Linked DNA regions of Homo sapiens: region 1 is linked to region 2. The links come from fine-mapping of genetic effects on gene expression. A gene starts in region 2. The other region holds a variant in brackets. All regions are shown on one strand. Distances are from middle to middle. Region 1 overlaps CKAP5 (cytoskeleton associated protein 5). Region 2 holds the start of MYBPC3 (myosin binding protein C3).

Region 1 (5,499 bases), 510 kb after region 2:
TTTTTTTTTTTTTTTGAACCAAAGTCTTACTCTTTCTCCAGGGCTGGAGTGCAATGGCACGATCTCGGCTCACTGCAACCTCTGCCTCCCAGGCTCAAGTGATTCTCCTGCCTCAGCCTCCTGAGTAGCTGGGATTACAGGCGTGAGCCACAGCACCCGCCTAAATTTTTTGTATTTTTAGTAGAGATGGAGTTTCACTGTTAGCCAGATGGTCTCAATCTCCTAACCTCGTGATCCTCCTGCCTTGGCCTCCCAAAGTGCTGGGATTACAGGCGTGAGCCACCGTGCCGAGCCAGCATATCACTTTTTTAATACTAGTTTGCATTTCCTTGTGCATCCTGTGAACCAACTCCCAGGCAGTTGGATCCATCTCTGGATTCCATGGATAACTTTTACCTTTAGTAATTGATGACAGCACAGCTTCAGCTCTTTACCATGGGTGACCACTTGGCCACCTAAGAATCAAAGTTCTTTATCCCTATCCTTTTATCCTTTTTCTTCCCAAACCATATGTGTCTGTGAGCCAAGTCATTCTAGCAAATCCCAATTCTGACGCCAATTCTGAGAATATAGAATAAGAAACTTTAATAAGTTTATCTTATACTCTCACAATACAGAAAACTTCTGTGACCTCAGATGTGTGAGATTTTTTTCCCCACACACCAAGCAAGTAGTTCTTCAGCAGTGGACACTAGCTGTGTGTCCTCTAATTCAGTTCAATTCTGACACCTTTTTTTTTTTTTTTGAGACAGAATTGCTCTGTTGCCCAGGCTGGAGTGCGGTGGCGCAGTCTTGGCTGACTGCAACCTCTGTCTCCCGGGTTCAAGAGATTCTCCTTCCTCAGCCTCCCGAGTAGCTGGGATTACAAGAACCCACCACAACACCCATCTAATTTTTTGTATTTTTAGTAGAGACGGGGTTTCTCCATTTTGGCCAGGCTGGTCTTGAACTCCTGGCCTCAAGTGATCCGCCCGCCTCAGCCTCCCAAAGTGCTGGGATTACAGGCATGAGCCACCTCACCTGGCCAATTCTGACACTTTCTATCTGGAGGTAGTGTCAGATCCCACAGGTTGAGGGTTTAGTCCCAGAAGACTGCCCCCAACTCAGATGCCAATCTGAAGCCCCAGGTTTTTTTTTACCTGTGCTTCTGTAGGCTGACTATAAAAATGGGCATTCCTAATACCGCCCCCCATTCCCTGCCTTGGGTTTGATTAATTTGCTAGACCTGTTCATAGAACTCAGGAAAACACATTTTCCAGCCAGTTTATTATAAAGGATATTGCAAAGGATACAAAGAGCTATATAGGGTGAGGTATAGGGGAAGAGGCATGGAGCTTCCATGCCCTCTCTGGGCACACCACGCTCCAGGGACCACCATGTGTTCAGCTCTCAGCTTCTCCAGCAGCAAAGTTTTAATTGCAATAAATTTGAGTACCTTAATATTATGAACACTGTTCTAGGTTTTTGGTAAGCAATTAAAAATAATAAACAACTTTAACAGTGCCTTAGGATAAGTGTTAAAAATTTTGACAGGGAATGAGTATGTTAAGGTAAAGCCAGGCTCTCTTATGCTCCTTTAATGGGGTCTTATTCATTCATTGAACAGATATTGAGATTGATGCTTAATGTCTGTCACACATTGTTCTAGATTCAGGGAATACACTGGTGAACCAGAAAAAGACAAAGGCCCTGACCTAAGGGAGTTTGACAGTTTTATCTGTCAAACAATTTACTGTAGCAAATTATAGTTTCTGTAATCCCTCTGGGGTCAGCTCTGGTCCTTGAATAAAATACATGCCCAGATACTTTTACTAGCAGTAGCTAACATGTATTGAATGCCTACTGGGTCCCACATTTTGTTTAATTAATTAATTAATTAATTTTTTTGAGACAGGATCTCACTCTGTCGCCCAGGCTGGAGTGTAGTGGTGTGATCATGGCTCACTGTAGACTCAACCTCCTGGGCTCAATCTGTCCTCCCACCTCAGCCTCCCAAGTAGGTGGGCCTACAGGCACATGCTAATTTTTGTATTTTTTGTAGAGATGGGGTTTTGCCATGTTACTCAGGCTGGTCTCAAACTCCTGGGCTTAAGCAATCTGCCCTCCTTACCCTCCCAAATTGCTGGGGTTACAAGCATGAGCCAACATGTCCCGCTACATTTTATCTTTTTTTATCCTCACAATGTTTTACAGATGAGGAAACTGAGTCTTTAAAAGGCTGTGCAACATGCTCAAAATCATAGAACTAAGTGATAGAATCTGAATTCAAACCCAAGTCAGTCTGTCTCCAGGGCCTTTGCTCTTAACCTATGATTGTACTACGTGAAGTAGGGATCTGTAGGAGAATTCAGGAGCAATTTCTGGGTAGAATTCCCCCAGCCCCTTTTAAAAAAGTACTTCTATCGGAGATGTGATGAAATATGAATGACAGGCATGATAGTTTTTAGAGGAAAGATGGCATTTACCATATGGAAGATGGACAACTGTGACAGTGGTGGCGGTGGGTAGCTAAAGGGACGCATAAAAATTGAGTTCTTAATCTAATTAGGATTCTTGGTAGTCAATGTTGGAGAGTTTTAAGGTTTTTAAATGATTTTCCTATTCTTGCCTCTGGAGTTTAGAATACATTACTTAGCTCATTTCTATCAGGGCAGTTACTCTACCTACTTGATGTGTATAACTCCAACACATTACGCTTATTCTTTTCGGTCTTTGCATTCTGTTCTGGAACTTCTCACTTCACTCTACCCCTACCCCCAGCCTGTATTACTGGCACTCTCAGGCTTCAACTTAAATGTCATCTCCTTAAAGAGACACTTTTCTGAGCTCTGAATTAGAGGAGCCCTCTTGGTCACTTTTACTTCACTTTTCCTTATTTACTTCATAGCATATATTGTTATGTAATTGTTTATTGTTTGTCTATATATTGTTAGATTTTCTCATAAAAATGAAAGCAGAACATAGATTTTTTTTTTCCTTTGAGGTTACCTCAGTGACTCAACAATGCCTGCAACAAACTAGGTGGTCAAAAATATTTGTTGAACAAAATTGGCCAAAACTGGCATCATCTTCTCTGAACAAAAAAGTGATAAAAACAGTATCTGACTATTCAGTTGGCTGTGTTTCTGTGTCTTTATTTATTTTTTTTTATTTTTATATTCTAAAAATGTTGCGACAATGGTGGCTCAGCAATTTTTTTTTTTTTTTTTTTTTTTTTTTGAGATGGGGTCCCACTCTGTCTCCTAGGCTGGAGTGTGTTGGCCTGATCTCTGCTTACTGCAACCTTCACCTCCCGGGCTCAAGGGATCCTCTCACCTCAGCCTCTAGTGGCTGGGACTACAGGCGAGTGCCACCACACCCGGCTAATTTTTTTTTTTTTTTTTTTTTTTTTTTT[TG/G]AAGAGGCAAGGTATTACTATGTTGCCCAGGATGGTCTTGAACTCTTGGACTCAAGTGATCTGCCTGCCTCGGCCTCCCAAAGTGCTAAAGTGCTAGGATTACAGGCGTGAGCCACCGTGTCTGGCTGTCATTTTTTTCTTTTTGTGGAGACACAGTCTCAGTATGTTGCCTAAGCTGGTCTTGAACTCCTGGCCTCAAACAATCCTCTCGCTCCAGCATCCAAAGTGCTGGGATTACTGGTGTGAGCCACTGCACCAGGCTTGTTCCTGTGTTTTTGGGTGTAAGCAGTATCTTAACAGTCTCAATTAGTCTTAAAATTATTTTAGACTAGTTCAGAAAGTCTTTAAGAAAGCTAGAAAAATTATACATCTGAATTTTTTAAAAAAATTTTAATCTGTTTTGAGAGGTACTAGTCAAATACATTGTAAGATGTCCTTCTATTGGAATTTGTCTGATGTTTTTCTCATTAGACTGGAGTTACAGGTTTTGGGCAGGAAGACCACAGAGGTAAAGTGCCATTTTCATCACATCATATCAAGGGTACATGCTATCAACATGATTTATGACTTAATATTGACCTTGACTGTTCATATTGACCTGAAATAGTGTTTGTGAGGTTTCTACAGTGAATTTACTTTTTTTTCCCCTCCTTTTCTATACTGTATTCTTTGAAGGGAAGTCACTGTTTGCAGCCCACACTTAAGGAATGGGGAGTTCCTTGATCTTAGGGTGGAGTACCTACTTAATTTATTTGAAATTCTTGTCTCTCCTTTCCCATTTATTAGTTTAGTCAAGTATTTACTGATAATAGTGTGGACTCAAGTATATTTATTTTATATTTTAGGTTACACTCCAATATTACATTATTTTGTTGTTCAGGTTGTTCCAGCTTTGTCCTTTGGGAGCTTCCTGTATTCCTTTAACATACATGTGTGTGTGTGTGCGCGTATTTGTATTGATCTTTGAGTACTTCCTTACTATCTGGAAATGTTCCAGGCTCATCTTGTGTATTTCTTGTCCCAGTGCTAGAATCAGCCATTTCCCCAAGGTGCCCTGGTTCCCTTATTGGAGAATGCTATTAGAAACAAGACCTGGGTACTGAGTGTTCTCTTTGCTACTGGGGTGTCATTTCTTTTAGGTCCTTTCAACTGTTAGAGCAAAGAAATATATGAATGTATGCTAACCCCATGTATATAGACATATCTATAAATATTTCTCTATGTAGCCATCTGTGTCTATATTAAGTTAAACGAGTTCCATAGATCACTTTCAGTAGTATGGGCGGGGGGGAAAAACATGAGTTCCTACTGGTGTCTCCAATTCTGATCCATTATCACATAGATCATTCTAGCCTCCTCCCCTTGCTGATCTTTGAATTTCCATTCACAATAGTGAAAAACCTAATTTCCACCATCCATTTATTTAATTGTCCAGTTCCATTATATATGGATATACATACATGGATAGCAGTATCAGAATTGCTAACCCATACTCCATGAAAAAAACTTTATCAACTAGAGTACATACTTCTGTGCAGTTCCTTTTGCCCTTAATCTTTCAGACTCCACTCATTACCAAAGCTACTTAGGTCAGAACCTTTTTCCCACCCCCTTTGGTGAAGTTGTTTCACACATCTGTAATATAGATTCCCTTGTCATAGTCTTCATTCTTTTCTGCAATCTCCCAGTCTCCTAAATGACTTTTTAAAATTTGCATACATTAAAGTTCACTCTTTATGTCATAAAAGTCTCGAACTCCTGCCTTGGCCTCCCAAAAGTGCTGGGATTAACAGTACAACCCACTGTGCCCAGCTGACATAAATTTTTAATTCAGTTGGATAAATACCTAGAAGCAGGTTGCTGGATCATATGGTAAGACTAGTTATAGTTTTGTAAGAAACTGCCAAACTCTATTCCAGAGTGGCTGTACCATTTTGCATTCCTATTAGCAATGAATGAGAGTTCCTCTTGCTCCACGTTCTTAACAGCACTTAGTTCTATCTGGTTTTTGGATTTTAGCCCTTCTGGTAGGTATGTAGTGTCCCCACTTTATTATTATTATTATTTTAAAGAGATGGGGTCTCACTGTGTTGACCAGGCTGGT
Region 2 (5,252 bases):
TCGTCCAAGCACAAGGAGGCGCTGGCGCACCGCTGGGGCATCCAGAAGGGCAACCGCAAGAAGATGACCTACCAGAAGATGGCGCGCGCGCTGCGCAACTACGGCAAGACGGGCGAGGTCAAGAAGGTGAAGAAGAAGCTCACCTACCAGTTCAGCGGCGAAGTGCTGGGCCGCGGGGGCCTGGCCGAGCGGCGCCACCCGCCCCACTGAGCCCGCAGCCCCCGCCGGGCCCCGCCAGGCCTCCCCGCTGGCCATAGCATTAAGCCCTCGCCCGGCCCGGACACAGGGAGGACGCTCCCGGGGCCCAGAGGCAGGACTGTGGCGGGCCGGGCCTCGCCTCACCCGCCCCCTCCCCCCACTCCAGGCCCCCTCCACATCCCGCTTCGCCTCCCTCCAGGACTCCACCCCGGCTCCCGGACGCCAGCTGGGCGTCAGACCCCACCGGGGCAACCTTGCAGAGGACGACCCGGGGTACTGCCTTGGGAGTCTCAAGTCCGTATGTAAATCAGATCTCCCCTCTCACCCCTCCCACCCATTAACCTCCTCCCAAAAAACAAGTAAAGTTATTCTCAATCCATCCTCTTGCAGCACAGAGTCTCTTTTAAAATTTGTTGTGTATCTCTTTTGGCCCCTGTGTGCTGCGACGTCTCTTTTTGTCATTTGTCCATCGGGTGTTTACCGAGGACTGTACCCAATGCTGGACCCTGGGAACATGAGGACCAATGACACAGAGCGCCTGAACAGGAGTTAGAGTTTGGTGGAAAGAACAAGTCCTCAATTGTGATTAGGAGAGCAGATCCTATTTAAAAGCTCTCTACTCCTGATAGTTGTTGTTTTTAAGCCTTGATGAGGTTTGAACTCATGATGATGATGATGATGATGATGATGACCATGACCAGCAACAACATTTGATATTCTGGTCAATTAGTATCTGCCAACCTTGAGATGTGGAGTCTAATATCACTCCATTTTATAGAATGGGAAACTGAGGCTTGTAGAGGTCAAATTATTTCCCCAAGGTCACAGCCGTTGAGTGGCCAAGTTGGATCACACTCCAGGTCTGTCCCGACACGTCAACATGGAGTGGGAGGCCTTGCTTATCTGGAAGAGGATACTCTTCAGCATTCCGAGGACAGGAATTAAGCCCCAAAGCTCCTGTGGGCCGCAAAGGGTTCTCACGAGCTGCACGCCCAGCAGGACTTTAGACCCAAGTGAATCCCTGGTGGGACCCCCAGGTTCTATTTGCTTTCTAGCTCCTAGCCACAGCAGGGGAGAAACAGACCAAGCTGAGCGGAGAAGCCTGTAAGTCCTGTGTTTTCCTCCAGACGGTAGCAAGTAGTGGCAGTAGACAGCCTGGGAGTGAGGGACTTCCCAACGCTGTCAAAGACCTTAGGGAACCCAGATTCTGGGGCCATTATCGTAGGGACAAATACCCGCCCCACACCTCCTCAACCCCAGAGGGCTCACTGCAGCCCAACCCTGCAGCTCCCTAGTCCTACTGCAGGGCCACAAGAGAAGGCAAAATGGTGTTGTGTCTTCATTCTTCTATTTTTATTTTTTTTTTTTTGAGACAGGGTCTTACTTTGTTGCCCAGGCTGGAGTGCAGTGGCACGAACATGGCTCACTGCAGCCCTGACCCCCCGGGCTCAAGTGATTCTCCTGCCTCAGCCTCCCGAGCATCTGGGACTACAGGTGTGCGTCACATGCCTGACTGATTTTTGTATTTTTTGTACAGATGGGGTTTCATCATGTTGCCCAGGCTGGTCTCGAACTCCTGAGCTCAAGTGATCTGCCCGCCTCAGCCTCCCAAAGTGCTGGGATTACAGGTGTGAGCCACTTCGCCCAGCCCATTTTTATTTTTTTATTATTATTCTTTGAGATATTAATAATAAAAAATAATAATAAATAATATTTTTATTATTATTATCACTCTGTCACCCAGGCTGCAGTGCAGTGGTGCGATTTTGGCTCACTGCAGCCCGGAACTCCTTGGACTCAAGCGATCCTCCCACCTCAGCCTCCTGGGTAGCTGATACTACAGGTCCACACCACCACACCTGGCTAATTTGTGTGTGTGTGTGTATTTATTTTATTTTTTATTTTTTTAGTAGAGATGGGGTTTTGCCATGTTGCCCAGGCTGGTCTCAAACTCCTGGCCTCAAATAATCTGCCTGCCTCGGCCTCCCAAAGTGCTGGGATTACAGATGAGCCACCACACCCGGCCTAACATTTTTAAAATTATAAACCCACTTCATACGTGTGACAATCCTGTGCAGTGGGTGCTGCTTTCACCCACCCCGCTTTACAGATGAGGAAACCAGGTGCTTTGAGATTAAAGAGATGGCAGTGCTAGGACTCAGAGACACCCTGGCCCCAGGGTCTGTGGACATGACCACTGCCTGAACTGCCTGCGAGGATGCTCCTGACCCGTTAGCCTTAGGGTTATGGGCCCAGCATGCTCCCACCGTACAATTTGCTGTAAGAGGGACACACACGGGGCTTGGAGTACCCCTGAGGCTTGCCAAAGGTTGGGGAGGCAGAATTGTGCTGCGGGGGGTGAGGGGGGAAGGGACAGGAGCCAGCCAGGGACAATGTGGCCCTACCTTCTCCCTGGAGAGACCTCAGCTCTCTGGAATTCATCTATATTTAGCAGGTGGCTGGACAGGAGGCAGATAAGCAGAGCCTGGGGAGGGGGGAGGTCCCCATATATAGTGGGAAGGACAGGACCCCACTCAGTCCCTCTTTGGGTGACCTGTGCCTGCTTCGTGCCTGGTGTGACGTCTCTCAGGATGCCTGAGCCGGGGAAGAAGCCAGGTAGCTTTAGGACTGGGGTTGGGTCTAAGTGTGGGAGCAGGGGGGTGTCTACAATTGGGGAGCAGGGCTAGGAGGGAGTTCTTGAGGGGGTTGACGAGGACGTGGCCTCTGAGCCCCAGGACAGGGGCAGCCAGTCCTCCAGGGTCCTTTTTTGATTCTCGGTTTCTTTTTCCCATCCCTCTGATGAGAGGTGAAGGTAAACCCAAGGTCAGGGACGCAGAGAGGGGACACAGCCAAGACAGGAAGCACCCGGGGTCAACCCATTCTGAGAATGCAAAGGGACCCCTTCCCTGTCCCATTGCCTTCACCTTCCACAGCAAGGTTCCCCGCGGACAGAGCCCACGTTTAGTATGGAGCTGAGCCAGGCTCACGGCATGCCTTCAGACCAGTCTCTACCCACTATGGGTCTCAGTCTCCCAACCTGGGGTGCCGGGGGTGGTGGTGGCATTGGGTTGGTTCCTCCTGGCTGTGACATTATCTGCTTCATGAGCCTGTACGGTGTGGCCCCCATGTTGAGGGTGACACAGCCCCTCTTCTCTGAGAGAGGACAGTCAGGAGCCCCTGAACCCAGGCCAAGGGCAGGGAAAATCACAGCCCAGGGACCTGGGCCTGGGCTGTGCCCTTATGAAGGTTGTCCAGGGCAGAGATCCAGGTCCCCATCCCCCAGCGCCCTCCCAGGCCAGCTTTATCTCAGTTGCTGATACCCAGCCTGAGGTCCTTGGAGGACAAATTTGGCCACATTCCAAGTAGGCAGACTTCCCCGCCCCCTGCCAAGGGCCCGAAATGGTTGGGGGAAAGGGAGCTGGGTTCATCACGGGTGTCTCCAAGCAGGGAAAGTGGACACATGCAGAAAAAGTCTTGTTGGGAGGTCAGGACCACAGCCCTGGCTCTCCCGACTGCTAGCTGTGTGATCTTGGAGGAGCCGCTTAGCTTCTCTGAGCCTCAGTGTCCTCCTCTGAGAAATGAACAGAATAACTGCAACTACCTCAGAGAACTGGTAGAGTATTACGTGAGGGGATGCATAGAAAGTGCTAGCACAGTATTTACTGAGAGGGGCTGCAGGGGCGGGGTGCACGCTCCAACCAGGGGCCGCTGTAGCCTCCACCTGGCCCTTCAGTCTCAGCTTTTAGCAAGAAGCCACGGTCAGTGGAAGTGGCCGCAGGCAGCCCTGCCGTGTTCGAGGCCGAGACAGAGCGGGCAGGAGTGAAGGTGCGCTGGCAGCGCGGAGGCAGTGACATCAGCGCCAGCAACAAGTACGGCCTGGCCACAGAGGGCACACGGCATACGCTGACAGTGCGGGAAGTGGGCCCTGCCGACCAGGGATCTTACGCAGTCATTGCTGGCTCCTCCAAGGTCAAGTTCGACCTCAAGGTCATAGAGGCAGGTAAGATCCTGATCAGCCTTCCCTGAGGTTTGGGCTGCTGGGGGAGGGGCAGCCCAGCGACTCTCCATCCATCCAGGGAACAGGAGGTGCTTTCACACTTTCTTGCCTTTGCTGTGGCTGTGCCCCCCGCCAGGAACGCCCTTTCCCCCTTTTCTGCACATGACCTCTCTGAGTACCCCCATGTGCCATCCTGGCTTGTTCCAGCCATGGGGTAGGTGGGAGAGATGAACAAGACACAACCCCACTCTCCCCCTGCAGACCTCCCTGGGGAGATGACCCTGCACAGACGGCCGGGAAGCCCCAGGAGCTGTGGATGAGGGGAGTGCAGCCCAGTCTGAGGGGCTGCTCTAAGGCTGGGGCAGAGCAGGGATGGACCTGGAGCTGTTCAGGGCAGATGCAGAGGACATGGGAACTGATGGCCTGGGACGGGGAGGAGAATGTGAGAGGCAGGCTGGCTCTCCAGCTCAGCATGAGCTGCCTCTGAGGGGCCCAGGCAGCGGGAGGACAGCCATGGCAGACTTTCCTCATCCACAGCGGGCTCATGGGTCCAATGCTCAGGAGAGAGAGGGTGGAGGGGTCTCTGGTTAGTGGCTGCACCACGACTCCCATCTGATCCCCTCCAGAGAAGGCAGAGCCCATGCTGGCCCCTGCCCCTGCCCCTGCTGAGGCCACTGGAGCCCCTGGAGAAGCCCCGGCCCCAGCCGCTGAGCTGGGAGAAAGTGCCCCAAGTCCCAAAGGTGAGAGGGGCTGGGCAGGGAGGGGCAGGATCCGTGGGTAGGGCGTGTCCAGGGCAGGTCTCAAAAGCCTTTGCTGGGCCAGGTGCGGTGGCTCAGGCCTATAATCCCCAGTACTTTGGGAGGCCGAGGTGGGCGGATCATGAGGTCAGGAGATTGAGACCATCCTGGCTAACATGATGAAACCCCATCTCTACTAAAAATACAAAAAAATTAGCCGGGCGTGGTGGCGGGCACCTGCGGTCCCAGCTAACTTGGGAGGCTGAGGCAGGAGAATGGTGTGAACCTGGGAGGCGGAGCTTGCAGTGAGCCGAGATTGT

Evidence for each region.
Region 1: its variant is fine-mapped to the expression of MYBPC3 in whole blood (INTERVAL, PIP above 0.99).

What each region holds. Positions count from the first base shown.
Region 1 is chr11:46,836,514-46,842,012 of GRCh38, reverse strand. The region is part of intron 1 of CKAP5 (cytoskeleton associated protein 5); the gene reads left to right. Among named protein-coding and RNA genes, the nearest start is that of CKAP5, 7.0 kb to the left of the region's middle. The variant TG/G (reference allele first, on the strand shown) is at 3,395.
Region 2 is chr11:47,350,185-47,355,436 of GRCh38, reverse strand. It overlaps MYBPC3 (myosin binding protein C3), which reads left to right and starts at 2,735. Exons shown (of 35, transcript NM_000256.3): 1 at 2,735-2,814; 2 at 3,932-4,198; 3 at 4,822-4,935. The coding sequence starts at 2,790. SPI1 (Spi-1 proto-oncogene) reads left to right here. Exons shown (of 5, transcript NM_003120.3): 5 at 1-577. The coding sequence ends at 210. RefSeq lists enhancers at 3,111-4,091, 4,092-5,073.